Homo sapiens: one gene and its partner. The protein of the gene in region 1 purifies or fractionates together with the protein of each later gene. This does not show direct contact. Each region holds a gene or a part of one and is shown in the gene's direction. Other genes may lie near its edges.

What was found.
Region 2: the proteins of IFT81 (region 1) and CEP44 purify together in Homo sapiens (affinity purification with mass spectrometry; 3 studies listed by BioGRID and IntAct, with this or other methods). This does not show direct contact.

The regions. Positions count from the first base shown.
Region 1 is NC_000012.12:110,141,357-110,144,856, forward strand, and holds part of IFT81 (intraflagellar transport protein 81 homolog), read left to right. Parts: intron 1-2,025; coding exon 2,026-2,189; intron 2,190-3,500. UniProt on the Homo sapiens protein: Component of the intraflagellar transport (IFT) complex B: together with IFT74, forms a tubulin-binding module that specifically mediates transport of tubulin within the cilium. Binds tubulin via its CH (calponin-homology)-like region.
Region 2 is NC_000004.12:174,290,411-174,293,910, forward strand, and holds part of CEP44 (centrosomal protein of 44 kDa), read left to right. Parts: intron 1-3,500. UniProt on the Homo sapiens protein: Centriole-enriched microtubule-binding protein involved in centriole biogenesis. In collaboration with CEP295 and POC1B, is required for the centriole-to-centrosome conversion by ensuring the formation of bona fide centriole wall.

The DNA.
Region 1 (3,500 bases):
CACTTTCTCTTCTCTTCCTTTCTCTAATCCTGAAAAAAGAAGGAATAGTGAAGTAATGAATGGAAAACTTAGAATTTGCAGTTAATAAAATTTTACATGTTAATATATGGTTAGCACGATGGAACTAAAAATAGTTTTAAGGCTTTGGGCCAGATGTATTATGCTTTGGGCCAGATGTATTATGCAATCTATTACACAGATTACTTAAACCAGAAAGCCCATGTGTTAAAAATTTGAGCCAGGCCAGACGAAGTGGCTCACGCATGTAATCCCAGCACTTTGGGAGGCCCAGGCAGGCGGATCACTTGAGGTCAGGAGTTGCAGACCAGCCTGGCCTTAACATGGTGAAACCCTGTCTCTACTAAAAATACAAAAAATTAGCCGAGCTGGTAGTGTGCGACTAATTCCAGCTACTCAGGAGGCTGAGGCAGGAGAATCGCTTGAACCCAGGAGGCAGACAGAGGATGCAGTGAACCCAGAATGCACCACTGCACTCCAGCCTGAGTGACAGAGCAAGATTTCATCTAAAACAAAAAACAAAAAACATTCAAGTCAGAATTTGTAAATGTGTAAATGGAAAGATATGAAATAAACTTTGTAAATCTCTCTAGGCTGGGAATTTAAAACAAGATGGTTATTCACTGAAAATCTGTGTGTATAGTTGTCCAACTGCAAAAATAAGAAAACTAAAATCTTAAAAATATAAATTGCCACTTAACTGTAAACTAATAATACTTTACAAAATAAAAAATACCAAAACATGGAAAACTTAAAACATTTATGTGTAGGTAGATACTTTGTTTCTTTTTTCTTTTGTTTTTTTGAGACAGAGTCTCCCTCTATCCCCCAGGCTGGAGTGCAGTGATGGTGACACGATCTTGGCTCAGTGCATCCTCTTCCTCCCAGGTTCAAGCGATCCTTGTTCCTCAGCCTCCCAAGTAGCTGAGACTACAGGCATGTGCCACCATGCCCGGCTAATTTTTGTATTGTTAGTAGAGACAGGGTTTTGCCATGTTGCCCAGGCTGCTCTCGAACTCTAGACCTAGGTGATCCACCCACCTCGGCCTCCCAAAGTGCTGGAATTACAGGCGTGAGCCACTGCACCTGGCCTGTTACTCTTTTTTAGATTTTAACTTGTGGTGCTTTTAGTAATGTCTTCATTGGCTTGAAGCTGACAAATGATAATGAATTATCATTTATGAACTGTTATAATAGAAATATAAATTGTTCTGGGTACAGTGTAATCCCAGAACTTTGAGAGGCTGGGATCACACCTGTAATCCCAGCACTTTGAGAGGCTGAGGCAGGTGACTGCTCAAGCCCAGGAGTTAGAGACCAGCCTGGGCAACATGGCAAAACCTCGTCTCTACAAAAAAAAATACAAAAATTACCTAGGCGTGGTGATGTACACCTGTGATGCCAGCTACTTCCAGCTACTCAGGAGGCTAAGGTGGGAGGATCACTTGAGCTGTGAAGGTTTAGGTTGCAGTGAGCTGAGATAGTGCCACTACACTCTAGCCTGGGTGACAGAGCAAGACCCTATCTCAAAAAAATAAAAAATACATATGTATATATATAGCATTAAAAGTATTCCAAAAGAAAAAAAATACATGATCATCTGTATAAAAGAGCACCTGGGTTAGATTTTATTTGTGTTATCATTTGGTTCATGGGTCTCTTAAATGCTTAGAAGGTAAAATATGACCCAACAATGTATCTGGCTCAGCACATGTTATTTTTGCGTATTGCGGGATATAAAAGAATTAGGTTATAATTTGAAAGGGTCATAATAGCACTTTTTCTATAATTATTTAAATATTCTTCCATGTAAATTATGTTTCTTCATTTTCATTGTAATTAACAATAAAATATTTCAATGGCCAATCTTTTATTGTACTATGCTATATATTATACAGTTTGTTTTCAACAAATATGCCGTATCCAGGTCTTATATTTAAAATAGTATACAGAATATCACTGTACCTACTCTTTTGGGCTGAATATTTATTTATTTTATTTTTAAAGGTTTAATGAAGAGGCTAGAGGAGGAGATAAAATTTAATTTATATATGGTAACTGAAAAATTTCCTAAAGAATTAGAAAATAAGAAAAAGGAATTACATTTTTTACAAAAAGTAGTTTCAGAGCCAGCTATGGGCCATTCTGATCTTCTTGAACTTGAATCTAAAGTAAGTGAGAATCATCTTTTTATAGCTCTCAATTTTATCTGATCCCCAGTCCTATAAAATTATGTGAACTGCTTTCTGTAGTATCCCACTATTGACTCTTAAATTAACCTGTGCTAAGAGTTGACAACTCTTATGAGGAATTGTCCTTTATGAGGAATTATAGAATGTTATGCTATTACTTAATCCACATGATGTTATGAAAACATAATCAATTGATTAGCAAATGAAGTAACTTAAATATGTAAATTAATGCATATGAATTGACCAGTGGGTTTATGTCTTCATAATGTAAGCATTTAGATGGGAAATTTGGAAATATTTTAATTGTCATTAATTTTTATTTCCAAGCAAAATATTATAGCAATTTTATATTTAAAGCTAATATTTTTATTAACCTTGTATACCTGCCTTGGAATTACTAAATATTGTAATGCTTATTGAAAGCTGGTATCAGGTTATACCTTTTTTTTTTTTTTTTTTTTTGAGACAGTACTTGCTCTGTTGCCCAGGCTAGAGTACAGTGGCACAATCTTCTCAGCTCACTGCAACCTCTGCCTCCTGGGTTCAAGTGATTATCCAGCCTCAGCCTCCCAACTAGCTGGGATTACAGGCACGAACCACCATGCCCGGCTAATTTTTTGTTGTTGTTGTTGTTTTTGTTGTTGTTGTTTTGTTTTTTGTTTTTTTTTGAGACAGAGTCTCGTTCTGTTGCCCAGGCTGGAGTGCAGTAGCGTGATCTCGGCTCACTACAACCTCCGCTTCCCGAGTTCAAGCGATTCTCCTGCCTCAGCCTCCTGAGTAGCTGGGATTACAGGCACGCGCCACCACGCCTGGCTAATTTTTGTATTTGTAGTAGAGACAGGGTTTCACCGTGTTGGTCATGCTGGTCTCAAACTCCTGACCTTGTGATCCACCCATCTCAGCCTCCCAAAGTGCTGGGATTACAGGCATGAGCCACCGCACCAGGACTTGTTTTGTTTTTTGAGACGGAGTCTTGCTCTGTTGCCTAGACTGGAGTGCAGTGGTGAGATCTCAGCTCCCTGCAACCTCTGCCTCCCGGGTTCAAGCCATTCTCCTGCCTCAGCCTCCCAAGTAGCTGGGACTACAGATATGTGCCACCATGCCTGGCCAATTTTTTTATTTTTAGTAGAGACGGGGTTTTGCCATTTGTCCAGGCTGGTCTTGAACTCCTGACCTCAGGTGATCTGCCCGCCTCAGCCTCCCAAAGTGCTGGGATTACAGGTGTGAGCCACTGTGCTTGGCCTGATTATACCATTTTTGTTCCCTAGAATTAAAATGCTAGGTCAGGTG
Region 2 (3,500 bases), on another chromosome or scaffold:
AATGTTTTTAGTCTTCTTAAATTTGTTAAGACTTGTTTTGTGACCTAGGCTGTGATCAGTTATAGAGAATGTTTCATGTCCTTTTGAGAAGAATGATTATTTTGCTATGGTTGGGTCTCATGTTCTGTATATGCATGTTAGGTCTTTGGTCTATAGTGTTGTATAGTTTGCAATTTACTTGTTGGTATTCTGTCCGGATGACCAGTACATTATAGACAGTGACGTATCAAAGTCTCCTTCTGTATTGTATTGATATCTATTTCTTCCTCCAATTCTATCAATATTTGCTGTTGGCATTCTGTCTGGATGACCTGTACATTATAGAGAGTGATGTATCAAAGTCTCCTTCTATATTGTATCGATATCTATTTCTTCCTTCAAATCTGTCAATGTTCACTGTATATTTTAAGGTGCTTTGATGTTGGGTGCATATGTATTTTTAGTTGTTGTATCTTTCTATTGAATTGACCCTTTTACTATTATATAATGCCTTCTTTGTCTCTTTTGACAGTTGTCGACTTAAAGTCTATTTTGTCTGATATAGATAGCCACCCTGCTCTCTTTTGGTTATAGTTTGCATGGAATATCTTTCTCAATCCCTTCACTTTTAGCCTACGTGTGTCCTTAAATGTTAGAGTCTCTTGTAGATAGCGTATAGTTGAGTGTTGTTTTTATTATCCATTTCAGCCATTCCATGTCTACTGAGAGCCCTTAATTATTAAAAATTTAAAGTAATAATTTTTAATAATTAAGTACTTAATTGTTTCCATTTTATTCATTGTTTTCTATTTGCTTTCTGTTTCTCCTGTTTTTCTCTTGTTTGTTGTCTTTGTGATTTGATGATTGTAGTAGAATGCTTTGATTTTTTTCTTTTTTTTGTTTATTTACTATACTTTTTATTTTGGTTACTATGGGGTTTGCATCAAATATTATGTAGTCATAGCAGGCTTTTTAAAGCTAGTAACAACTTCATTCATATTCAGAATCTCTACACTTCTCCCCCCTCTTCCTCACCAATGTATGTAATTGATTTCAGATTTTACTTCTTTCTATATTGTTTCTATTAACAAATTTCTGTGGTTGTTGTAGTTACTCATACTATTTTTGTCTTTTAATTTATATACTAGTGTTCAATGAGATTTACGTGCCACAGATTTCAGTATTGCAATATTCCATGTTTGTTTTCATGTTTGCTTTTAGCAGTGAGATGTATACTTTCATATGCTTTCATACTGTTGGTTTAGTATCTTTTCAGTTAACTTGAAGATCTCCTGTTAGCATTTCTTGTTAGGGCATGTCTAAAAGTGACAAACTCCCTGAGTTTTTTAATCTGAGGAAGTTTTCATGTTTTCTTTATTCTTTTATCTTTTTCTTTTCTTTTTTTTTTTTTTTTTTTTTTTTTCCAGGTCTGGCTCTGTTGCCCAGGCTGGAGTGCAGTGACATGATCTCAGCTCATTGCAACCTCAACCTCCTGGGCTCAAGTCAGCCTCCCACCACAGCCTCCCAGGTAGCTGGGACTAGAGGCATGCACCACCATGACTGGCTAATTTTTGTATTTTTTGTAGAGACAAGATTTCACCATGTTTGCCAGGGTGGTCTTGAACTCCTGAGCTCAAGCAATCTGCCTGCCCTCAGCCTCCTCAAGTGCTGGGATTACAGGTGTGAGCCACCATGCCTGGCTATTTCCTTCATTCCTGAAGACAGTTTTTTCAGGTAATTATTTTCAGTTGGCAGGTTTCTTTTTTTACTTTCAGTATGTTGAATATGTCATTCCCTCTCTCCTGGCCTGCAAGTGTTCTGCTGAGAAATTCACCAATACCTTTATGGAGGCTCTGTTATATGAAATAAGTTACTTTTCTGTCACTGCTGTCAAAATTTTTTCTCTGTCTTTGAATTTTGACAAATTCATTATAGTGTCTATTGGTACAGACCTCTTTGGCTTCAACCTATTTGGGAACTTTTGGGCTTCGTGAGTCTGGATGTCCATTTTCCTCCCTAGATTTGGTAAGTTTTCAGCCATAATCTAAATGTGCTTTCTGCCCCCTTTCTCTCTGTCTTTTTGCCTTCTGGAACTTTTATAATGTGTTTATTAAGTTACTTAGTGGTGTACCATAAGTCCCGTAGTATTACTTCATTTCACTTTTTATTCTTTTTAATATTTCTTCCTCTAATTGTATAATTTCATATGACCGGTGTTCAGGTTTGCTGATTCTTTCTTTTGGTTGATTGAGTCTGTTGTTGAAGCCTTCTATTGAATTTTTTAGTTCAGTCATTGTATCCTTCAGCTCTAGGATTTCTGTTTGGTTCTTTTTTATGCTTCTCCTTTATTGAACTTTTTGTTCATGTATTGTTTTCCTGATTTTTATTTCATTTTCTATCTGGGTTTGTTTATTTGTTTGTTTGTTTTTGTAGCTCATTGAGCTTAAGATGATTATTTTGAATTCTTTGTCAAGCAGATCATGGATCTTCATCTTGTTATAGTCAGTTTCTGTAACCTTATTGGTTTCCTTTGGCATGTTGTATTTACTAATAATCCCTTGAGTCTTTCATTGGTGTCTGTACATTTGAAGGAGCAGTTCCCACTTCTGTACTAAACAGAGTGATTTCAGTAGATGAAGATCTTCTCTTGCTGGGTCCCTTGGTGAGACTGACTTCCAAACCACAGTCACTTAGGTGGAGCCAGGTTGTGGGTCTGCTTACATGTTCAAAATCAGGTCTGCGGTTGTGGGCCTGTTACTGGGGCTTGGGTGGGTGTGGTTCCTTCTGGGTTCCCAGACAAACAAGTCTTCCTGTGAGACCTTGGACAGGTGAGTTGAAGCCCACATGCTGATGAGGCTGCTGCTGGGTCTGGAGCCAGTTCTGTAGTCACATGCCTGCTACTGGGGCATGATTCTGCCTTCTCAAAATGGCTTCTATCAGTCTTGGACTCCAGAAGGATGTCACAGCCTTCTACTTGGACCCATCAGGGCACTTTTATACATAGATGGTTGCTAAATTGGTGTTTCTGTGAAGGACAAGGGCTGGGGAGGTCCTGTTCCACTATCCTTTTCTAGCTAAAACCTTCTTTGATTTCTTTCATAGTTTTGTAATTTGTCACATACAGATCATTTACATATTTTGTTAGACTTATAAGTGTTTTTTGTGCTATGATAATGGTGTTTTTAGTTTTATATTTCATTCTAATCATTTATTGCCAGTATATAGGAAAACATTTGACTTTTGTATATTAACCTTATATACTGTGACTTTGCTATACTCACTTTTTACTTTTAGGGGGTTTTTTTTGTTAATTCTTTAGCATTTCCTAAATAAACAATCATGTCTTTTGCAAATGAAGACCACTTTATTCCTTTCTTCCTAAGGTATTTTATTTCCTTTGCTTGCTTCATTTCACTAGCTAGGACTTCTGGAACACTGTTGAATAGGAGTGGTGAGATAGGACATCCTCGTGTTATTCCCAGTCTTTGGGGGAAGTATACAGTTTCTCAGCCTTAAGTGTG